Homo sapiens: one gene and its partners. The protein of the gene in region 2 purifies or fractionates together with the protein of the main gene of each other region. This does not show direct contact. Each region holds a gene or a part of one and is shown on either strand. Other genes may lie near its edges.

Region 1 (7,036 bases), on a different chromosome or scaffold from region 2:
TAAGATCCTGCAACACACACACACAAACAATAATAATAATTTAAAAAACCAGCCAGGCATAGTGGCTCACACCTGTAATCCCAGCACCTTGGGAGGCCAAGGAGGGCAAATTGTTTGAGGTCAGGAATTCAAGGCCATCCTGGGCAACAGGTAAAATCTCTGTCCCTACAAAATAAAAACAAACAAAAAAGCTAGGCGCAGTGGCTTATGCCTGTAATTCCAGCACTTCAGGAGGCCAAGGTATATGGATCACCTGAGGTCGGGAGTTCGAGACCAGCCTGGCCAACATGATAAAACCCCATCTCTACCAATAATACAAAAATTAGCCAGGTGTAGTGGCGCATGCCTATAATCCCAGCTACTCGGGAGGCTGAGGCATGAGAATCATTTGAACGCAAGAGGCAGAGGTTGCACTGAGCCGATATCCTGCCACTGCACCCCACCCTAGGCAACAGAGTGAAACAAAAATTTTGCTGGGCATAGTGGCGCATGCCTGTGGTCCCAGCTACTCAGGAGGCTGAGATAGGAGGATCACTTGGGCCTGAGAACTCGAGGTTGCAATGAGCCATGATGGCACCACTGCACTCCCGCCTGGGTGACAGAGCTAGAACCTGTCTCAAAAAAATAAGGCGAGGCGCAGTGGCTCATGCTGTAATCCCAAAACTTTGGGAGGCCAAGACAGGCAGATCACCTAAGGTCAGGAGTTCAAGACGAGCCTGGCCAACATGGTGAAACCCCATCTCTACTAAAAAAAAATACAAAAATTTGCCAGGTGTAGTGGTGCATGCCTGTAATCCCAGCTACTCAGGAGGCTGAGGCAGGAGAATCACTGGAACCTGGGAAGTGGAGGTTACAGTGAGCCGAGATTATGCCACTGCTTTCCAGACTGGGTGACAGAGTGAGACTCTGTCTCAAAATAAATAAATAACCAAGGATTTAACATTTATGTAGATTTCACACCACGTAAGTACAGAACCACATACATTAAAAACAAAGAAAAGAAAATAGACCTCCTATTTTAGCAAGCCAAAATCAAGGTTACAAAAAGATATCCTGAAGGGCAAGTACTGTCCGTGACTGTATTCCATAAAACAAGCCTGTTAGGGGGCCGGACGCAGCAGCTCACGCCTGTAATTCCAGCACTTTGGGAGGCTGTTGGGCGGATCACAAGGTCAGGAGATCGACACCATCCTGGCCAACATGGTGAAACCCCGTCTCTACTAAAAATACAAAAATTAGCTGGGCATCACAGTGTGCGCCTGTAGTACCAACTACATGGGAGGCTAAGGCAGGAGAATCGCTTGAACCCGGGAGGCAGAGGTTGCAGTGAGCTGAGATCGTGCCACTGCACTCCAGCCTGGTGACAGAGCGAGACTCCATCTAATTAAAAAAAAAAAAACAGGCCTGTTAGGAACCAGACTGCACAACAGGAGCTGTGTGAGCATTAGCACCTGAGCCCCACCTGTTAGATCAGGTGCAGCATTAGGTTCTTATAGAAGCACAAACCCTACTGGGAACTGCATATAGCAAGAGATGTAGGTTGTATGCTCTTTATGAGAATCTAACAAATGCATAATGATCTGAGGTGGAACAATTTTTTTTTTTTTAGACGGAGTCTCACTTTGTCCCCCAGGCTGAAGTACAGTGGTGCTATCTCAGCTCACTGCAAGCTCTGCCTCCCGGGTTTCATGCCATTCTCTTGCCTCGGCCTCCGGAGTAGCTGTGACTACAGGCGCCCTCCACCGCGCCCAGCTAATTTTTTTGTATTTTTAGTAGAGGGGGGTTTCACCATGTTAGCCAGGATGGTCTCGATCTCCTGACCTCGTGATCTGCCCGCCTCGGCCTCCCAAAGTGCTGGGATTACAGGCGTGAGCCACCGTGCCCGGCCGGTGGAACAGTTTCATCTCAAAATCATCCCCTGCCCCTATGGAAAAACCATCTTCCACAAAACCGGTCCCTAGTGTTAAAAAGGTTGAGGACCATTGCCTTAAAATACACAGCATGATCTTGTGTATATATTACGTTTCTATTTATTTCAAGGGAGGGGCCCCAGAACTTAAAATTTAAAAATAAAAATAAAGGGAGGGGGCTCGGTGCAGTGGCTCACACCTGTAATCTCAGCACTTTGGGAAGCTGAGGCAGGAGGATCACTTGAGCCCAGGAGTTTGAGACCAATCTGGGCAACATGGCAGGACCCTGTCTCTACAAAAAATTTAAATGTTAGCCAGCTGGTGTACACCTGTAGTTCCAGCTACTCAGGAGGCTAAGACAGGAGAAATGCTTGGCCCCATAGATTGAGGCTGCACTCCAGCCTGGGTGACAGAGGGAGACCTTGACTCTAAAAAAATAAATAAAGGGAGAGGTGTAATAAAATCCTACAAATATTGCTTTGGGCAAGTCCCCTAATCTCTCAAAGCTTAGAGTTTTTGCCTTCCATTTTTAAGATTTAGGATTTTTTGTTGTTGTTGTTGTTGTTACTGTTTTTTAAGAGACAGGGTAGGCTGCGCACGGTGGCTCATGCCTATAATCCCAGCACTTTGGGAGGCCAAGGCAGGTGGATCGCTTAAGGTCAGGAGTTCGAGATGAGCCTAACCAACATGGTGAAACCCTGTCTCTGCTAAAAATACAAAAATTAGCTGAGTGGGGTAGCAGGCACCTGTAATCTCAGCTACTCAGAAGGCTGAGGCAGGAGAATCGCTTGAACCCGGGAAACAGAGGTTGCAGTGAGCTGAGATTGCACCACTGCACTCCAGCCTGGGAAAGAGCAAAACTGTCTCAAAAAAAAAAAAAACACCTTAGCTCATGAGGCTGGGCGGGGGTGGCTCACGCCTGTAATCCCAGCACTTTGGGAGGCCGAGGCAAGCGAATCACCTGAGGTCAGGAGTTCAAGAGCAGCCTGGCCAACATGGTGAAACTCCATATCTACTAAAAATGCAAAACTTAGCCAGGCATGGTGGCGGGTGCCTGTAATCCCAGCTATTCGGGAGGGCTAAGGCAGGAGAATTGCTTGAACCTGGGAGGCGGAGGTTGCAGTGAGCCAAGATCACGCCACTGCACTCCAGCCTGGGCGACAGAGACTCTGTCTCAAAAACAAACAAAAAAACCCTTAGATGGTAACAGTAACATCATAGATGACCCAGATATCCTTTGGAAAAAAACAAAAAAAACACAAGTACTTTCATTTAAAAAGATACGGCAGCGGCCAAGCACGGTGGCTCATGCCTGTAATCCCAGAACTTTGGGAGGCTGAGGCAGGTGGATCACCTGAGGTCAGGAGTTTGAGACCATTCTAGCCAACATGGTGAAACCCTGTCTCTACTAAAAATACAAAAATTAGCCAGGCGTGGTGGTGTGCGCATGTAGACCCAGCTACTCAGGAGGCTGAGGCAGGAGAATCACTTGAACCCGGGAGGCAAAGGTTGCAGTAAGCAGAGATCGTGCCACTGCACTCCAGCCTGGGCGACAGAGCAAGACTCCGTCTCAAAAAAAAAAAAAAAAAAAAAAGATAATAGGTGTGACTGTTAATAAACTGTTTACATCTCCGTTGAAGTTGTCACAATCACTTGAAATAGCTAAAAAAAAAAATAGGGTTTTGTTCATGCTCAACTATTTACACAACATCAAAATACTATCACTAGTCAAAACAGAAAATTGTAATTCTAGAGAACAATCTTCTAAAACCTTAAAATTCGTTTCAAAGTAAAAAAACAATACTTTGCTAAGGTGACAGTTCTAACACGGCTGTAGCTATTTAGGACAAAAAAATGAGATCCTCCTTTTTTTGTTTGTTTGTTTGTTTTGAGACAGAGTCTCGCTCTGTTGCCCAGGCTGGAGTGTAATGGCATGATCTCAGCTCACTGCAACCTCCGCACTCATTGCAACCTCCGGGATCAAGCAATTCTCTTCCCTCAGCCTCCCAAGAAGCTGGGATTACAGGCGCCCACCACCATGCCCGGCTAATTTTTGTATTTTTAGTAGAGATGGGGGTTTCACCATGTTGGCCAGACTAGTCTCAAACTCCTGACCCCAGGTGATCCACCCGCCTCAGCCTCCTAAAGTGCTGGGATTACAGGTATGAGCCACCGCGCCTGGCCTTGAGATCCTCCTTTAAGTCAAAATATATGGCTATTAAATAGCTACAATATGAGTTAACATCCCTTATGTAGAAGTATAAACCATTGCTAATTAGAGTAACACTGAAAATACAAGTTTACATTTAACCAAAAAAAGGAACACCATGACTGATCCCATGTTTTCACTGTTTCAGAATGTGGAATCTTTAAGCAACTACAGGCTTACATTTTTCTCTTAAAAAAAAAAAAAGAAAAAGAAAAAGAAAACCAAAGCAAGTTTTGGCCCAAACTTAAAAAGTTTATTTTCTCCACATACTTGAAACAAAAACTAAACTAATTAGGTAAAATACGTAAGCCCAAAAGAAAAACAAAACATGTCTCTTTGGTTAGTAATAGCCATCTACAATTTACCTCTAATGACCCTCAATGTCAATTAACTTTTTTGGTCTAACTTCAGAGATGGTTAGTATCAATGTGCACATAAAAGAATAACAAAGGATGATGCCATTTAAACCTTATAAATTACTAATGAAGCCACATGACTAATTAACCTAGATAAAAAGCAAACGGCTAAATACCCAACCTTCAAATCTTTGCTCAAATGTTAGCTCCTCAATTAAGTTCCCCCAATCCATTTAAAATTGTAACTCATTCCCCTCCCCACACTCCCTATACCTTTAATCTGCTTTCTTCTAATTCCATAGCTCTTATACACTATTATACATAGGCTGGTAATTTAATGTCTCATTGTCTGCCTAGTCACATTAGAATGTAAACTCCAAAAGGACAATATGTTTGCTTTATTCACTGATTCATCCCAAAAACCCCATGTACATAGATGCTTCAATAAAGCTGTATTCAACGTAGATATTTTAGGCCCTTCTACAAGATATTTAACTGCAAAAGATGAACAGTCTCACTGAAATTTAAATGGAAGCATGATGAACAACTACATTAAATCACAGCACATTTTTTTTTTTTTTGAGATAGAGTCTCACTCTGTCTCCCAGGCTGGAGTGCAGTGGCACAATCTCAGCTGACTGCAACCTCCGCCTCCTGGGCTCAAGTGATGCTCCTGCCTCAGCCTCCCAAGTAGCTGGGATTACAGGCGCCTGGCTAAACAGCACAATTTTTAAGTTGCAATGCCTCAAGAGAAAGAAGCAGTAAAAATACTAAGCTGAAAATCACTAAAAGAAAAATATTTTATTCAGACTGAATCCTGTATCCCAAGCAATTCTAATGTCATATTATTTAGGTTTAGGAATAGAGTAACAATTGTAAATCCATATTTTTATTTTTAATGGGGAAGGGAATGTAGAAGAAGAAGAGTCAACCAGCGAAAATTCCCAATAGTGCCATGAAATTACAAAAAAGTTACCAAAAATAACTTGGTCATAGGCTAGCAGCTAATAAAAAACACTTTCAGATGAAAAAGAAAGGTTAACAACAACAACAAAGCTTTAGAACAGTTCCTCAGGAATTTCATTCCTGCACTTTACTCAGTACTATCAGCACGACAGATAAACCAAGTACCCTCATTAATAATAATGGTTACAGGTTTCAAAACATCTTCACATATATTACCTTATTAAATCCTCAGAGGAACCAAATTAAACTCAAATATCAATAATCCAGTAACTAACAAAAGCACTTAATAATATATGCACTTGACAGTAAAAATGCAATTTTTCCTTTAAAAATTCCCCACAATATTTGACAAACTACAAAGAAACCATTCCATGGAAGAGCAACCTTCTTGACACTGGAAGTAATACAAGTCTTCTAAAGAATAATAGAGCACCGCTAGCAAGAGCCATAAAAATCCTGAAGCCCTCTGAACTAGTAAAACCACTCTTGGTAACTTTCTCTAAGGAAATAATTACACTGAAGCAAAAAGCTATTTAAAAATGTTCACTGCACCACTATCTATAACAAAAAAGTGGAAACCCAATTCCCAACAATAGAATGGTTAAGTAAAAACCTTACAGCCGGGCGCAGTGGCTCACGCCTGCAATCCCAGCACTTTGGGAGGCCGAGGCGGGCGCATCACCTGAGGTCGGTAGTACGAGACCAAACTGGCCAACATGGTGAAACCTTGTCTCTACCAAAAATACAAAAATTAGCCAAGCGTGGTGGAACATTCCTGTAGCCCCAGCTACTCAAGAGGCTGAGGTGGGAGAATCGCTTGAACCCAGGAGTCAGAGGCTGCAGTGAGCTGAGATCGTACCACTGCACTTCAGACTGGGCAAACACCGAGACTCTGTCTCAAAAAAAAAAAAAAAAATTTACATTTACAATACAACGTTCAGGGGAAAAAAGCTAACTACAAAATAACATACACAATCACCTCTACTACATAAAAATGAAAAGGTAAAAAGCAAAAATAAGAATTAGACTGATGGTTGGGGGCAGTGGCTCATTCCTGCCTGTAATCCTGGCACTTTGGGAGGCCGAGGCTGGCGAATCACTTGAGGTCAGGAGGAGTTCGAGACCAGCCTGGCCAACATGGTGAAACCCCATCTCTACTAAAAATACAAAAATTGGCCAGGGGCAGTAGCTCACGCCTGTAATCCCAGCACTTTGGGAGGCCAAGGCAGGCGGATCACTTGAGGTCAGGAGTTCGAGACCAGCCTGGCCAACATGGCAAAATCCCGTCCTCACTAAAAATACAAAAAAATTAGCCAGGTGTGGTAGCACGAACCTGTAATCCCAGCTACTGGGGAGGCTGAGGCTGGAGAATCACTTAAATGAACCCAGGAGACAGAGACTGCAGTAAGCTGAGATCAGGCCACTGCACTCCAGCCTGGGCGACAGAGTGAGATTCCATCCAAAACACACACACACACACACACACACACACACACACACACACAAAATTAGATTACAGTAAAATTATGTTCTAATATTGTGATTACATTATCTTTCCTAAAACAGCCACCTTCAAAAATATATATAACAAAGAA
Region 2 (7,036 bases):
GATGGTTTTCCATAGCCTCTTCCCATCCCCAGCCACATTTTGTCATGGAGCGGGGCCCCTGATTTTTGGTACTCACGTTGCAGGTGCATATCACGCCATCACCCCCAGCACAGATCATATTCGTCTTCACGGTGCTGCCCCACCAGCCAGAGCTGGAGCAGGTGGCATAGTCCACAACCAGCAACTGGCCCTGCTTCAGGTCATCAGGGAGAGCCCCGTTGGCTGAATGAGACCAGAGAGAAGCCATTAGGGACGCAGGGACTCCTGAGAAAAAGGAAGTGGTGGACCCCTACTGGATTTCCCCTGTTACCATCTTCCATCCATTGCAACATGGGAACAGCCATGTTTGTCTATACTGTGTCCTCACATTTGATTGGTTAGTGTGCTGGCCACTGGTGATTGGTTCAGCAGTGAACACCTAACTCAAGCTAAGCCAATGAACTCCCTCCCCTGAGATTTTGAGATGGGGACTAAGAGATTCCGGTTCCAGAGGATGCAAATCTTGGAAGCTGTTGTCAATGGCTGACATTTTCTTCTATGTGCAGAAGAATGAAGTAGACCCACAAAGAAAGAAATTTCTCAGTGAGTGTTTCCTGAGTTTCTCACAGGCTTCCAGCCCCTGATTCTAGTCTCTTCCTGATGCCTGGCTATATCTCTGCCCTTGGGTTGAAACTTTTAAATCCTTATAACAATTTCCCTTTTTTTGCTGAGCTAGCTCCATGGCTTTCTGTCACTTATCTGAAATAAGAAAGTGAGCCTCCTGGCAGTTAGAGCCCCCTCCTTGGGTGTGGTGAAGGGAGGGCTTTCATAATGGCCCCCAATGACACAGCCACCATCACCTCCATTACTGTTACCACAGCTATGAGTGGCAAGGATGAGATTAACATAATTTTTCACTTGCTATTGAAGCCAAGGGAAGTTAAGCGTCGGCCAGGCATGGTAGCTCACCCTGTAATCCCAGCAGTTTAGGACGCCAAGGCAGGCGGATCACTTGAGGTCAGGAGTTCGAGACCAGCTTGGCCAACATGGTGAAACCCCGTCTCTAGTAAAATATAGAAATTAGCTGGGCGTGGTGCACATGCCTGTAATCCCAGCTGCTCAGGAGGCTGAGGCAGGAGAATCGGTTGAATGTGGGAGGCAGAGGTTGCAGTGAGCAGAGATTGTGCCACTGCACTCCAGCCTGGGCGACAGAGCAAGACTCTGTCTCAAAAAAAAAAAAAATCAAGCTTTTTGCTTAAGACCATTCTAATTAATAAGTAATTAACACTTGTGTAACATTTTGCAATGTGTGATGCATTTCCACCTTTCACCTCTTTTAGTCTTCACCAACAGTGTTTCCATTTTACAGATGAGGAAACTGAGGTTCGGAAGTGGCTTGCCCAAGGTTTCACCGTGACCGACAGAGCTGGGCCGAAAAGCCAAGCATTTGGAGGCCTCCCCACTCTCACTGTCTCAGATGAAATGCACCTGCCCCAGGGTTGGCTGGGGAAACAAACAGGTGGTTGTGCTTGTATCTTAATAAGCATGAAATGCCTCTTCCACCACCACTCACCGCAGGATTTGATGTGTCCTTGTGTTTACAGATAAGCCAGTCAAGAGGGCAATGGGAATTTATTTGAGGGTACGTATGTGGATGTACCCCTGGAAAAACATGTCATTATACTTATGGGTTTATGTCATTAGGAAAAAATGTCATAATGTCATCATCACTAATAATGTCATTACGGTCATAAGGTCATTATCACTCATCCCTTCCTAGAATCTTCCAAACCTCTGGTGTTTTCACAAGGGAAGGGCGGGAACTCTGTTCCTCTTGGTGGCTACTGTCATTGGATCTCTGACCCTTGGAGTCTATGTCAAAGAAGACCCACCCTCAGCCGGGTTCTCAGTAGCAAGACCAAATGGCACAGGGGACAGCTTTTGCTATGGGGCATGGAGGGTCTGATGAGGGCTCCAGGGGCCTTTGTGGAGCTCCAGAGACCTCAGGTCACAGAGGAAATGCTGTTCTGAACTCTAGCCTTGGGCCACACAGAAGATGTCACATGATCTCTGTAACTTTCTTTCCATCATAGGGACAGTGACAACAACTAACACACAGCACCTACCACATGCCAGGCTTCCTGTGGATTATCTCCTTTAATCCTCTTGACAACTCTGTGATGTAGGTGGTATTATTATGCCTTTTTTTTTTTTGGAGATGGAGTCTCGCTCTATCCCCCTGGCTGGAGTGCAGCAGCGCAATCTTGGCTCACTGCAACCTCCGCCTCCTAGATTGAAATGATTCTTGTGCCTCAGGCTCCCAAGTAGCTCGGACTACAGGCGCACAACACCACACCTGGCGAGTTTTTTATATTTTTAGTACAGACGGGGTTTCACCATGTTGGCCAGGCTGCTCTCAAACTCATGACCTCAAGTGATCTGCTCGTCTCGGCCTCCCAAAGTGCCGGGATTACAGGCGTGAGCCACCGCGCCCAGCCAATTATTTGCATTTTACATATGAGAAAAGTGCAGCTTGGAGAGACCTAGTAATGTGTCCAAGGTGTCACAGTCATTAAGTGGGAGAGCTGACATTTGAACCCAGGCAGACATCAGCCTATGCCATCCTGTCTCTCCAAGGCAGCCACATGCCCAGGATAACATGTGAGGTGAGAGGCCCTGGCCGGACAGGGGTGACATCACCTCCCTTCCCTCCCAGGCCTGGGGGCTCCTGGCTCCCACTTACTCTGCAGCCTTCCCCAGCCCGTGACGTAGCAGGGGTAGTTGTTGGGTAGAATGGTGCCGGCAGGAGGGAGGCAGGCCAGCTGGATCTTGTCGGTGAGGGAGACGGGGTTAGCCAGTTTGAGCAGGGCAATGTCGTTCCTGGGTGAGTGCGGAGGCGGAGCATGAGAACAGGGTTGACTTTTCCTGCCCTATGGGGCTTTGGAGGGCTTGGAGACCTTGTCATCTTCCCTGTACGTTACCCCAGGTTGCTCTGACCGGCAGGGCCCACAGGGCATGTTTGAAAATGTAGAGGGTCGGCCAGTCACGGTGGCCTGTAATGCCAGCCTGTAATGCCAGCCTGTAATGCCAGCACTTTGGGAGGCCGAGGCGAGTGGATCATGAGGTCAGGAGATCGAGACCATCCTGGCTAACACAGTGAAACTCCGTCTCTACTAAAAATACAAAAGATTAGCCGGGCCTGTGGTGGTGGGCACTTGTAGTCCCAGCTACTCTGGAGGCTGAGGCAGGAGAACGGTGTGAACCCAGGAGGCGGAGCTTGCAGGGAGCTGAGATTGTGCTACTGCACTACAGCCTGGGTGACAGAGCGAGACTCCATCTCACAAAAAAAGAAAAAGGAAAAGAAAAAAGAAAATGCGGAGGGCTTTGTTGAAAGGGGGAAGGCAGGAGAGATTGTGTCCTACTCCAGGGACAGTCACAGGGTCGACAGCACTGTCTCTGTGTCCCCAGGACTTGGCATGAAGTAGATACACACTCAGCGGACAGGGGCCCTGCAGGCTTAACTGGCAGCAAACCCAGGTCGCTCTGGCAGTCTTTGCTTCACCCTCCCCAGGTCACATCCCCACCCCAGACATCTTTGGAGCCGGTTCCACATCTAATAGGCCAGAGCTCCTTTCTCTTCCCTATAGAAAAAGCAGAGGGGGTGTGGTGGGGTTGAGACCTTTGCCTCTGTGAGACCCCCATCTGTTCCCTGACAACCTCACCCCCAAGTGCACCCAGATAGAAACGAACCCTTTGGAGACCTGGTCGGAGTTCCAGTCCTTGTGCACCACAATCTTAGAGACACTGACGGCCAGCGAGCCGGACTCTGCAACGTAGAGGTTATGCTGGCCCAGCATCACGCGGTAGATCCCGGAGGAGCTGGGAGAAAGGGGTCCCAGGGAGAGGGTCACCTCCAGAGGCCTGGCTTTGAATAATGCTAGGGATAGACCCAAGTAACTGGCTGCTTCATGAGCCACTAGTTGGCACTTGGGGATCTTTCCTCCCCTGGGACAGTCAGTTAGTTATCATAGGGCCTAAAGTATATAATGTAAGAACTATGATCATATAATAATTGTTACTATACTAACTATAAACTACAATTTAAAATTAATGTTGTAATAGCACAAACTCTATAGTATTATGGAGGAATGAGATGAACACAGAGAAAACAGGAGTCATTTGCCCTCAAGGAAATTTTCAACCTTTTATTTTCAGATGGGGAAACTGAGGCCCAGAGAGGAGTAACTGGTCCGGAGTCCCACCGTTAGTGAGAAATCAGAACTAGAAGCCAGGACTCCTGACTGTAGGCCTCTATTAGTATCCCCATCACCTCCTAGAGCTTATTATAAGTCGGATGGGAGAAGGGATCACTCCTGGTAGGGAGTCACACTGACCCGGCAGAAACTCCGGTGAGTTCCAGCTGTGATGAGCAGAGGTCACGGACAAAGAAGAGGATAAGTGAACAACGTTGCAGAACCTTGTGGGCCTTTATAATTTGTCTGCAATTCAGAATTAGCTTTCATTGAGCACTTAATAAGTGCCAGGCACTTTAGCAAATCAATTGCTGAGTCCACACTAAATTCTGTTACTCCATTTTCTGCAGGTGATGGTATTGAAGCTTTGAGAAGTCAGTTAAGTTGTTCAAGGGAACCCAATTCCAGACACTGAGGCCACATGTAGTTTCCCCAAGAGGGCAGAGATTGGGCCTTCCCCTCCTCTTCATCCTCCCTCAGTGCCTGCCTGGCACAGACACTCCATCCATGCCATGAAATGACCCATGGGTGGGCCAACACACTGAACCATTGATTGACTACAGCTTGTGTCTCGGCCAGGCTAGTGGTTATTTGCAAGGTTACTTCATGTAGTGTGGTTCAGGCCATTTGAGCCCCCAGCTCAGAAATGAGCACCGGCTGGTGAGCAGGCCAAGCGCCCAGGGAATGGCAGTTACCTGATGCAGTGGGCAGCCGTCAGGACCCAGCTGTTGGCTATCAGGGACCCTCCGCAGGTGTGGTACCACTGGCCATTGGAGCTGTACTGCAGGGAGACCTGGGGAGAAACACAGGTCTGTGGCTGTGGCTGAAAAAGCAGGGCCTCCCTGCACTCCAGTTTCCCAAGAACGGGGCTGGGACAAGGGTAAGGGGGAGTGAGGCACTCACCTCAGGTACACAACTTAAGGGGGCACCCAAAACCTCAGCCATGAAGATAAAAAACATTTTAATGCAATCTATAGTAAAAAAAAAAAAAATCAGGCCAGGCATGGTGGCTCATGCCTGTAATCAGAACACTTTGGGAGGCCAAGGCAGGAGGATGGGTTGAGCCCAGGAGTTTGAGACCAGCCTGGGCAACGTGGTGAAACCCCGTCTGATATGGTTTGGCTGTGTCCCCACCCAAATCTCATCCTGAATTATAGTTCCCATAATCCCCATAGGTAGGGGGAGGGACCTGCTGAGAGGTAATTGAATCATGAGGGTGGTTACCCCATGCTATTTTTGTGATACTGAGTGAGTTCTCATGATATCTGATGGTTTTATAATGGGCCTTTCCCCCTTTTGCTTGGCACTTCTCCCTGCTGCCACCGTGTGAAGAAGGATGTGTTTCCTTCCCCTTCTGCCATGATTGTAAGTTTCCTGAGGCCTCCCCAGCCATGCTGAGCTGTGAGTCAATTAAACCTCTTTCCTTTATAAATTACCCAGTCTCAGGTATGTCTTTGTTAGCAGTGTGAGAACGGATTAATACACCGTCTCTACAGAAAAATACCCCAAAATTAGCCACTGGGTGTGGTGGTGCATGCCTGTAGTCCCAGCTACTCAGGAGGCTGAGATGGGAGGATTGCTTGATCCTGGGAAGTCTAGCTTGCAGTGAGCTGCGATTGCACTGTGCTCAGCCTGGGTGACAGAGTGAGGCCGTCTCCACAGGGGATGTCCTGTCAGCTCTACCTTGAGAATTTGTGGAGTGGTTGCTACCCTTTGGTCACTACCTCAACTGTGTGTCGCAATCACCCTCTCTTCTCGATGATCATTCTAGTCTCCCATCTCTTCTCCCCATTCCCACCCACATTTTCTCAACACAGCAGCCAGACTGATCCTTTTTGAATGGAAGTCAGATGACTTCTCTTCTCTGCTCAGACTCTCCAGTGGCTCCCCCTTTACAGTTTGCAAAACTTAAAACTGTCTGATGACCTGCTAGGCTCTCCGTGGCCTCTCTGACCCCATAGGCTCCCACTCTCCTCTCCTCCAGCCACACTGACTTCCATGCAGTTCTGCACATACACCAAACCCGCTTCTGCCTCAGGGCCTTTGCACTGGCTCTTCCTCCTCCCTGGAATATTCTTGCAAATATCGGCGTAGCTCTTTCCTTCACTTCCTGTCAGTCTCTGCTCAAGGTTGCCTTCTCCATGAGGCCTTCTGTGACCACGCTATCCCAAACAATGTGCACACACACATGCGTGCACGCTCATGTACATATGCACACACAGACACACTTGTCTCTTTCCCCTTACTCTGCTTTACTCTTCATAGTATCTTTCGTTTTCCGGCGTGTTATTAGTTTACCTATTCAGTTGTTTATTGTCTCTTCCACTTTATTTATTTTATTTTTTGAGATGGAGTCTCCCTCTGTCGCCCAGGCTGGAGTGCAGTGGCACGATATTGGCTCATTGCAACCTCTGCCTCCCAGGTTCAAGCCATTCTCCTGCCTCAGCCTCCCCACTAGCTGGGATTACAGGTGCCTGCCACCATGCCCTGCTGATTTTTTTTACTTTTAATAGAGACGGGGTTTCACCATGTTGGCCAGGCTGGTCTCCAACTCCTGACCTCAGGTGATCCACCTGCCTCAGCCTCCCAAAGTGTTGGGATTACATGCGTGAGCCACTGTGCCTGGCCACGTCCTTGTTTTTAATTAGCCACTGGGCATTTCTCGTTTTTGTGACATTAAGGGGCCTTAGATGAACTGGCTTTTAAAAAGATGCTTAAAATTGGACCAAGTGAAAAAAGACACTGAAAAGTATCTACTCCCCCACCCCAATTTAAAAATGTGCTGAAACCATCCTACAGATGGG
Region 3 (3,187 bases), on a different chromosome or scaffold from region 2:
GCAGTGGCTCACGCCTGTAATCCCAACACTTTGGGAGGCCGAGGCGGGCAGATCACGAGGTCAGGAGATCGAGGTCATCCTGGCTAACACGGTGAAACCCCGTCTCTACTAAAAAAAAATACAAAAAATTAGCTGGGCGTGGTGGCGGGCACCTATAGTCCCAGCTACTCGGGAGGCTGAGGCAGGAGAATGGTGTGAACCCAAGAGGTGGAGCTTGCAGTGAGCCGAATCGCGCCACCGCACTCCAGCCTGGGTGACAGAGTGAGACTCTGTCTCAAAAAAAAAAAAAAAAACTTACCCTGGCATGGTGGCACATGCCTGTAGTCCCAGCTACTTGGGAGGCTGAGATAGGAGGATCACTTGGCCATGGGAGGTTGAGGCTGCAGTGAGCCATGAGCATGTCACTGCGTTCCAGCCTGAGCTATAGAACAAGACTCCGTCTCAAAGAAATAAATTAACATAAGAAAATAAAGTGCTGACAGGCTGAGCAAGGCTTTTAAGATTATGGGGAGAGCCTGCTTGGTGAAAAGATTCTAGATGTAGTTGGAAAAGTCTTGGGTAGAGGAGTTTAATGGTAATGATTGTTGTCCTGAGACTTGTAATTCTGGATCTGAATCATAATACATTTATTGAGTGCATGCTATATACCAGGCTTAGTATCAAGCACATTAGAGCCTAACTTACTGAATGCTTATCACAGCCCAATGAGGTAAATGCTTTTCTTTTCTTTTCTTTTTTTTTTTTTTTTTTTTTGAGATGGAGTTTCGCTCTTGTTGCCCAGTCTGGAGTGCAATGGTGTGATCCTGGCTCACTGCAACCTCCGCCTCCTGGGTTCAAGCAATTATCCTGCCTCAGCCTCCCAGGTAGCTGGGATGACTGGCATGCGCCACCACGCCTGGCTAATTTTGTATTTTTTAGTAGAGACGGGGTTTCTTCATGTTGGTCAGGCTGGTCTCGAACTTTCGACCTCAGGTGATCCACCCACCTCAGCTTCCCAAAGTGCTGGGATTACAGGCGTGAGCCACCTCACCCAGCTGGTAAATGCTTTTCTAATTTCACATTTTCTAGATGAGTTAGTAGGATTTAGAGGTTAAGTAATGTACCCAAGATCGCAAAACTGGCGAATGGTAGAGCTGGAGTTTGAATTTTCTGACACTGGTCCTTATCACTCCACAAAGAGTTTGGACTCCATGAATTTAGGCTTTGTACTGACTTTCTCCCTCTTCCCTCCTATGTAGCTGGAGAAGGAGTACGTGTGCCGGGTGGAAGGGGAGTTCCCCACTGAGGAAGTGACCTGTAAAGAACCCATCTTAGTGGTGTCTTACAAAGTAGGGGTGTGCCGTGTAGATCCCCGGGGCAAGCCCTGTGAGACAGTGTTCCAGAGGCTAAGCTACAATGGCCAGTCCAGTGTGGTACGGTGCCGGCCACTCACAGGCCGCACACACCAGATTCGAGTCCACCTTCAGTTCTTGGGCCATCCCATTCTCAACGACCCCATCTACAACTCAGTTGCCTGGGGTCCTTCTCGAGGCCGGGGCGGCTACATTCCCAAGACAAACGAGGAGTTGCTACGGGACCTGGTAGCAGAGCACCAGGCCAAACAGAGCCTGGATGTGCTAGATCTCTGTGAGGGTGACCTGTCCCCAGGACTCACAGACTCTACGGCCCCCTCCTCAGAGTTGGGCAAGGACGACCTGGAAGAGTTGGCTGCAGCTGCCCAGAAGATGGAGGAAGTAGCTGAGGCAGCCCCTCAGGAGTTGGACACAATAGCCTTGGCATCAGAGAAGGCAGTTGAAACAGATGTCATGAATCAAGAGACAGACCCACTCTGTGCAGAGTGCCGGCTGGTGCGACAGGATCCCTTGCCCCAAGACCTTGTGATGTTCCTACATGCCCTACGCTATAAAGGGCCAGGCTTTGAGTACTTTTCACCAATGCCTGCCTGGGCACAGGATGACTGGCAAAAGGACTGAGGGTGTGGCCAATGGAGGGATTGCTTCTTGGGTTGTGACAAGGATGGGCTATAGGGCAAGGGCTGACCCCATGGGCTAGTACTTGGGGTTTCTATAGGAATGAGGACGGGCTTCTAAAGAGACCTGCTCATACTTGCTACCTCCTTCCAGTGGGAATTTGGAGACTTTTTGGTTTGTAAATATATCCCTTTTTCTAACATCTTTGATGTCTGGTTTTCTTCCGGCTTCTTTTTTATTACTGATGTAAAATTCACATAACATAAAATTAACCACTTTAACTAGCCAGGCACAGTGGCTCATGGCTATAATCCTAGTACTTTGGGAGGTAGAAGTGAAAGGATCACTGGAGGCCAAGAGTTCAAGGTTAAAGTGAACTGTGATTGTGCTGCTGCACTCCAGAGCCTAGGTGACAGAGTGAGACCCTGTCTCTTAAAAAAAAAAAAAATTAACCAATTTAAGATGTACAGCGTAGTCACATTTAGTACATTCACAGTGTTGTACAACCATAACCTCATATATTTCCAAAACATTTTCATCACCCCAAAAGGAAACCTGTACCCATTAAGTAAGTGGTCACTTTCCACTCCCCTTCCACCAGCCTCTGGCAACCACTAATCTACTTTCTGTCTGTTTGGATTTGCCTGTTTATTCTGGACATTTTATATAAATGGAATGATAAAACATGTGACCTATGTCTCTGTTTCCCTTGGCATAATGTTTTCAAGGTTTATTCAACTTGTAGCATGTATCGGTACTTCATTCTTTTTTTATGGCAGAATAAGCTGTTGTATGGATATACCACGATTTGTCTATCTGTTCATCAGTTAATGGACATTTGGGTTGTTTCCACCATTTCATTATTGTGGATAGTGCTGCTGTGAACATTAAATATGTTTTCAGTTCTTTTGGGTATATACCTCACAGTGGAATTGCTGGGTCATATGGTAATTCTATGTTTAAATGTTTGAGAATCCACCAAACTTTTCCACAGCAGCTGAACCATTTTATATTGCCACCAGCAAGCATAGGGTTTCAATTTCTCTACATCTTCACCAACATTTGTTTTGTTTTGATTATAGTCATCCTAGTAGGAGTGAAGTGGCATCTCATTCTGGGTTGTTAGTCTTTTTGTTGTGGAGTGTAAGTGTTCTTTATATATTCTGGATGTGAGAGTCTTAGCAAAAAGACTAACAGCCCAACTTAAAAATGGGCAA
Region 4 (7,046 bases), on a different chromosome or scaffold from region 2:
TACCTGCGGGCGGTCTCATGCGAGGTGATTTCCATGTTCACTGCACCTTTCTACCTTGTCTTTCATTTTGAAAATGGCAGCATCCTATTTTTATCATCACCATTGCTAAACCACCCACTCGGAAGCACACGCCTTCAAAAAAGGGCTCCACCATCCCGCATCCACTGGCAAAGGCAGCTTGCCCATGCCCACTCAGCCTCAGGGGAGCCAGAAGGTGCCAACAGCAGTGCAGAGGCCCACCTGTGCCTGCGGCGTTGACCTTCTGCACCGCCACCTGACTCCAGGCCCCAGGAGCTGCCCCACAGTCTAACACCCGAAGGCCGGGCCGCAGAATCTGGTGCCTCTCGTTCACCTCCAGGAGCTTGAAGGCGCTTCGACACCGGTAACTCTCCACCTTCGCAGCCTTCACAAATGGGTCCCTGAGATGTCGGGTCAGCCACAGGTGCTCAGCGCCTGTCCGATTCTTGCAGCGACTCCCAACAGTGTGGAACCCTTGACGCTGAAAGGAAACACACACCAGCTTCAAGTACCTGGTGGGAGAGAAGAGGAGCAGGCAGGTTGGCATCACACAGAACGGCAGGTCATGAGCTGGGAGGGCCCTCGGATCAACTCATTCATTTCTAGAGATGGGGCACCAAGGCCCAGGAGGGGAGGTGAACTGATAAGGCTACACAGATGGAAAGCAGGCATCACAGGCCAAACTGTGTCCCCGCAAAATTAATGTGTTGATGTCCTAACCCTTGGTACCTCAGAATATGGGGGTATTCGGAGACACCTGTAATTCCAGCACTTTTGGAGGCCAAGACAGGTGGATCCCCTGAGGTCAGGATTTCGAGACCAGCCTGGCCAACCGTGGCCAACATGATGAAACCCCGTCTCTACTAAAATGCAAAAATTAGCCTGGCGTGGTGGCAGATGCCTATAAACCCAGCTACTCGGGAGGCTGAAGCAGGAGAATCGCCTGAACCCAGGAGGCAGAGGTTGCAGTGAGCCGAGATTGCGCCACTGCACTCCAGCCTGGGCGACAGAGCGAGACTCTGTCTCAAACAATAACTAAATACATCAATTAATTAATTAAAGTAATATTATTTTCTCATCTGGCAAAAATGTTCATTGGGCTCTGACAGGCTGCAAGAAAACCTCATAAGGACAGATCCTTGCCTTAGTGACCTAGTTCCAGGGCTTTGACAGCTAGTACAGAGGGTCTGGCCTGTCACATTTCTTTTTTTCTTCTTTTTTTCGAGACAGGGTCTCGCTCTATAGCCCAGGCTGGAGTGCAGTGGTGAGGTCACGGTTCAACGCAGATTCGAACTCCTGGGCTCAAACAATCCTCTCACCTACATGTCTTAAATAAAATTGAACTAAACCTGTGTCAATCGTTGAAGGACAATTTCCAAGATTCTCTAGACAATTGTTACAATAAATGTAACAATTTATTCACAGCCCACAATAGCTAAGCAGGTGGAAGCTATACACACCTCCCCTTGTTTAACTCTGACAACAACCTCACCAAGGAAGTTCTATGTCCTCTTTTTCTTTTTTTAAGACGGAGTCTCACTCTGGCGCCCAGGCTGGAGTGCAGTGACAGCTCACTGCAGCCTCCGACTCCCGGGTTCAAGCAATTCTCCTGCCCCAGCCTCCCAAGTAGCTGGGATTACAGGCACACCTGCTACCATGTCCGGCTAATGTTTGTATTTTCAGTATAGATGGGTTCCACCATGTTGGCCAGGCTGGTCTCAAACTCCTGACCTCCGCTGATCTGCCCGCCTTGGCCTCCCAAAGTGCTGGGATTACAGGTGTAAGCCACTGCACCCAGGCATTTCTTTCTTCTTTTTGTTTTTTTAGAGACAGGGTTTTACTATTACCCAGGCTGGAGTGCAGTGGCATGATCACAGCTGACTGCAGCCACAGCCTCTGGGGCTCAAGTGAACCTCCCACCTCAGCCTCCTGAGTAGCTGAGACTACAGGTGTGTGCCACCACTTCCGGCTAATTTTTCTATTTTCAGTAGAGATGGGATTTCACCATGTTGGCCGAGCTGGTCTCGAACTCCTGACCTCTGGCGATCAGCCCACCTTGGCCTCCCAAAGTGCTGGGATTACAGGCGTGAACCACCTCACCCGGCCATTTTTGTTTTGCTATCATCCAGGCTGGAGTTGCAGTGGCACAATCACAGCTGATTGCTGCCATAACCTCTGGGTCTCAAGTGAACCTCCCACCTCAGCCTCCTGAGTAGCTGGGACTACAGGTGTGCACCACCATGCCTGGGCTAATTTTTTTTTTTTTTTTAATTCTTAAAAACCTTTTTTAGAGATGGCATCTCACTACATTGCCTAGGCTGGTCTCGAACTCCTAGGCTCAAACGATCCTCCTGCCTCAGACTTCCAAAGTGCTGGGATGACAGGTGTGGGCCACCAAGCCCGGTCTCTATGTCCATCTTTCTGATTTAAATAAATAAATAAAAGTTACCACCCTCATGGCTCCAAGGCCAAAGCTTCTAGCTTCTGCAACACCAAAGCGTGCTGACAAGCCAGGAGGCACTGACTGCTGACCGTGAGTCGCTGTCTTCCCCTCGCTTAAGGGGTCTCCCGGGAAAATGGCACAAGCCGGTCCCGGGGGCCAGGGCCCACTCGACAGCCCAGGAAGCGCGGGCAATGGAGCTACCCGGCCCAGAAGCGAAATCCCGCCCCGGGCTCGCCCCCGGCGCCTTGGATCTGGGCCCCGGCGCTGCGCCCCCCACCTGGACTCCGCCGCCGGCCCCGGCCTCCCCACGGCCCCGCCGGCCCTGCCCCTGGAGACCTGAGGGCGCCCTCCTCCCGGGGAACTGCGACCCGGAATCCTGGCCTCGCCCCTGTCGCGCTCGCTGAGTGCGGGGACGGTGCCCAGCGCTCGGCACCCAGCCCCGAGGCCAGGACCGAGGAAGGCGACCGGGCGGACCCCCAACCACTCCCGCTGTCTGCACGCGCAGCAGCAGCGCCCAGCTCACCCCGCCATTGGTGTTCCCCGCGCCTGCAGCGCGCCGCCGGAAGTGCCTGGCCTCACTTCCGGTCAGAGGCCACGCCCCCGGAAGCGGCGGTGCAGGTACGAAAAGCGCGCGCGGGGATTCCAGGAGTCGTGGTGACCAGGGAGGGGAGCCGGGCCAGCGGGCGGCAGGAGACTAGGGGAGCTGAGCCATGGGCTTGGGGGAGAGCGGGGCCGGGAGCTCGAAGGAGACCAGAAGAGCAGGGTCGGGGGCTCGAGGGAGACGAGGAGAGCGGGGCCGGGGGTTTGGGAGAGAGACAAGGAGAGCGGGGCGGAGGCTTGGGGGAGACCAGGAGTAAATCACAAAAATTTACTTTGGAAACCGTGGCTTCTGGCAGAAACAGATCAGTGTCGGGACAAAGTACACGGGCCTGGTGTGAAACTAAGCCACAAACCCATTTACCCTGTCTGACCTGCCTCCGCCACCAGGACCCAGTCTCAGTGAAATGGGAAAGGTTCCCTTGTCCTCCTCGAAGGGCGTGCGATGAGGATGTGGCTCACTTCTTCAGTGCCCCGCTTCTCAAGCCTCTAGGGGAACATACAGACAGGCAGGCTGAGGGGCTCCCACCCCACGGCAGTGTCTAGGGGTGAATGTTTGCAGCTCCTGAAGCCCCAGCAGGCATGTGTTAGAGGGTGCTCTTTCAGTTTAGCCTTGTAGGTGGCTTGTGTTAGTCAGCTGTTAGACTCCCTGCCTTATCGCAAGGACAGAGGGCTTTCTGTATCCCTAGGTTTCTTGCCTTGATGTACTGGAGCAATCAGATCACACGGCGGCTTGGAGAGTGAGTGCAAGGTTTTATGAGTGGAATTAGCCCTCAGCAGATGGGGGAGCCAGAAGGCAGTTGGAGTGGGAAGGTGATTTTCCCCTGGAGTCGGGCTGCTGAGCAGCCTGGGCTCTCCTCTGACCGCCCCTGCCAAACTCATGGTTCCATCAGTTGATGGCCTGCTGGTGCCTGTTGGTGTGCTTTCCACGTCCTCTTGACGTCCAGCGGCTTGTGTCTCTGCCCACTATAAAAAACCACTGGGGTTTTTTTATAGGCACAGGACGGGGACGTGGCGGGCTCGGGAAATGCAACATTTGGGCAAAAAAACAGAAATGCCTGTCCTCACCCAGGTCCCTGGGCACAGGCCTGGGTGTGGAGCCCTGGCCAGAGACCACGCCCTCCTCTACCCAGCACTTCCCTGCCCCCTTCCTTATCATCTGGTCCCTTTTCTCAGACACCACAACTTCCAAGAAGGATCACTGGTCCTGAACCCTGTGTCTTGTCCAGGTGTGGACCCCAGAAAAGTTGGTCCTGGCTGGGCGCAGTGGCTCACGCCTGTAATCTCAGCACTTTGGGAGGCTGAGGTGGGTGGATCGCTTGAGCTCAGGAGTTCGTGACCAGCCTGGGCAACGTGACAAAACCCCATCTCTACTAAAAATACAGAAATTAGCTGGGTGTGGCGGCTCATGCCTGTGGTCCCAGCTATGTGGGATGCTGAGGCAGGAGGATGGCTTCAGCCAGGGAGGCGGAGGTTACAGTGAACCGCGATCACGCCACTCTCCTCCAGCCTGGGCAACAGAGCAGGATCTTGTCTCAAAATAAATAAAGGAAAGTTGGTCCTGGCCCTCCAGCATTTCTCCAGGGTCCTTTTTTCAGCAGGGACCTGGCGGAGGCATCGCCCTCAGAGTCCTCTGGACCTGGACCTGCACACCTATGGGAGCAGGAAGGACCCTTGTGACTTCCAGTGGCCCCCCTGGGTGCCAGGTCCCACAGTAGCCACAGCAGGAGCAGAGTGGGTGGGGTATAAACTCCTATCACAGGAGGGAGGACTAGCCGGGCCTGGCTGGGTGGACCTGTGTCTACAGCCACACATTTCCTGGGAATCTGGAAGCCTGCTACAGAGAGGCCAGGTCCCACTAGACTGAAAGAAGTTCCTGTTAATCCAAAGGCCTGACCTGAGGACCACAGGATAAACTGCGTGGTTATTTTGGTGCCAATCAGGCACGGGGACTGTTGTTCCTCACTGTGTGCCTATAAGCAGGGGGTTCCTGGGGGTAGACGCAGGAGCAAGAGCACGCTCTGGAAAGGTGATGTTGTCCTCTGCACCTGAGTACTGACTTGTGGAGAAGGAAGGTAGCGCCGGCCTCTGCTCTGCTTGATCAGCCCTGCTGACCACTGGGTTCTGTTTCTACCCCAGAAAATCACTGGTTCAATGGCAGTTTTCCACCTGCCACAAGGGAAGCCACACGTGGCAGGGCTGGGGAGTTACAGCATACCCCCCCGCCCCCCACTGCCTCCCAGAGCACGTCCCCTTCCTCCTGGCCCCTGGCACGTGCTTCCTCCACGCACGTCATGGCTGACTCTGCCCTCTCACCTTCCTTTCAGAACCCAGGGACCATGGGCGCCTCCAGGCTCTATACCCTGGTGCTGGTCCTGCAGCCTCAGCGAGTTCTCCTGGGCATGAAAAAGCGAGGCTTCGGGGCCGGCCGGTGGAATGGCTTTGGGGGCAAAGTGCAAGAAGGAGAGACCATCGAGGATGGGGCTAGGAGGTAAGGATGGGGCAGGTCTGGCCATAGAACCGGCTTTCCCAGGGCACAGGGATTCGGGCTGTAGGGCCACACCCTTGGTTTCACCACTAAGAGCTAAGTGACCTGGAGCAGGGGGTTAAGCGTGAGCCTCAGTGTCTTCATCTCAGAATGAAGAACAGTCCGCAGCCCTTCGGACTCTTGTGAAGATAAAATGAGGAAATGAACTCGAAGGACTTAGAACGGTGCGCGGTGTGCGGTGCGTGCTGAGTGCGTGTTAGCTGTTGTGGTGCGGTGGTGCTGGGGGCTGCAGGGCGTATCTGGAAGCCTCTGTGCAGCAGCTTGAATTGAACCCTCCCAGCACCCTCACTGTTGCCGAAGGGCTCGTCAGTCACTTGGTTCCTCTGTCTGTTCAGTGGAGCTGATGATCGCTTTCATCTCACACTCGCTGTGCACAAAGCCTCACTGCATCCTCAACACAGCCAGCTTCACCTAGGAAGGAACTGAAGCCCAGAGAGGTTGAGCCGTTTACCCAAGATCACACAGTCCTCCAGACGCCCCTCAACCCTCACAGGGTAAATGAGATCATCTGTGTAAACATCGCTGCACAGACGTTAGCCCCCGTTCGTGTTTTTGTTCTGAGAAAGGTAGGCCAGCTTGCCTGGAGAGGAGAACTACAGAGTAAAGAGGGTCCTGGCACGGAGGAAAGCCAGGACGCTGCAGCCTAGTGGCTTTCCAATTTTTTCATCACAACCTGCAGTAAGAAATACGTTTTGTACTCTGATAGAGTGTACACACTCAGGTGTGCAGGTACAGCTAAAGTAAGTTGCAGTAGCCGCCCTTATTACATAAAAGGGGGCTCTACTTTTCCGATTCATTTCTCTTTTTTTCTCCAGAGGTGGGATCTCACCCATGGCACACTCTTGGCTCACTGCAGCCTCAAACTCTTGGGCTCAAACGATCCTCCTGCCTCAGCCTCACGAACAGCTGGGACCACAGGCACATGCCACCACGCTCAGTTCGTTTTTTAATTCTTTGTAGAGATGGTGTCTCATTAACTCCCAGGCTCAAGCGATCCTCCCTCCCGGGCCTCCCAGAGTGCTGAGATTGCAGGTGTGGGCCACTGGCTTGACCCTTTTTTTTTTTTCAATTGCAATCCACTAAGCCGATTTCCCGGGGTACATGGGTCCCAACCCTCAGTTTGGAGAGCCCTGTGTGTGCTTCCCCTCCAAGGCTTGGGACCCCAGACCGCAGCCACACGGACACGTTCGATCAGTCACTGTGGCAGGTGCCAGTGCGACAGGCTCTGTGCTGGGGGCCGCAGCTGGGGAGGAGGACCACTGGGTGTGAGTCGGGCATACAGCGTGTCCCTGCCAGGAGTGTGTGCAGAGCGACCACAGCACAGGAAACAGGAAAGGTGGCCCCGGGGGTTCTCTGCCCAGCCCTTTGTCTTTGATCTGCTAAGACTGCCCATCAGCTCATGGATTTCTGTAGCGCTGCTCTGTGTGGGGCCTGGGGACA

Evidence for each region.
Region 1: the proteins of CELA2B (region 2) and ATXN2 purify together in Homo sapiens (affinity purification with mass spectrometry; 3 studies listed by BioGRID and IntAct, with this or other methods). This does not show direct contact.
Region 3: the proteins of CELA2B (region 2) and RPUSD2 purify together in Homo sapiens (affinity purification with mass spectrometry; 3 studies listed by BioGRID and IntAct, with this or other methods). This does not show direct contact.
Region 4: the proteins of CELA2B (region 2) and MRM2 purify together in Homo sapiens (affinity purification with mass spectrometry; 3 studies listed by BioGRID and IntAct, with this or other methods). This does not show direct contact.

What each region holds. Positions count from the first base shown.
Region 1 is NC_000012.12:111,589,301-111,596,336, forward strand, and holds part of ATXN2 (ataxin-2), read right to left. Parts: intron 1-7,036. UniProt on the Homo sapiens protein: Involved in EGFR trafficking, acting as negative regulator of endocytic EGFR internalization at the plasma membrane.
Region 2 is NC_000001.11:15,479,087-15,486,122, reverse strand, and holds part of CELA2B (chymotrypsin-like elastase family member 2B preproprotein), read right to left. Parts: intron 5,026-7,036; coding exon 4,928-5,025; intron 3,859-4,927; coding exon 3,730-3,858; intron 2,860-3,729; coding exon 2,723-2,859; intron 223-2,722; coding exon 77-222; intron 1-76. UniProt on the Homo sapiens protein: Acts upon elastin.
Region 3 is NC_000015.10:40,572,289-40,575,475, forward strand, and holds the end of RPUSD2 (pseudouridylate synthase RPUSD2), read left to right. Parts: intron 1-1,238; coding exon 1,239-1,973; 3' UTR 1,974-2,661; downstream 2,662-3,187. UniProt on the Homo sapiens protein: Pseudouridine synthase that catalyzes pseudouridylation of mRNAs.
Region 4 is NC_000007.14:2,239,178-2,246,223, forward strand, and holds the start of MRM2 (rRNA methyltransferase 2, mitochondrial), read right to left. Parts: upstream 3,029-7,046; 5' UTR 2,993-3,028; coding exon 2,985-2,992; intron 531-2,984; coding exon 241-530; intron 1-240. Other genes in the region: NUDT1 (oxidized purine nucleoside triphosphate hydrolase), read left to right, coding at 3,815-3,871, 5,386-5,549. UniProt on the Homo sapiens protein: S-adenosyl-L-methionine-dependent 2'-O-ribose methyltransferase that catalyzes the formation of 2'-O-methyluridine at position 1369 (Um1369) in the 16S mitochondrial large subunit ribosomal RNA (mtLSU rRNA), a universally conserved modification in the peptidyl transferase domain of the mtLSU rRNA.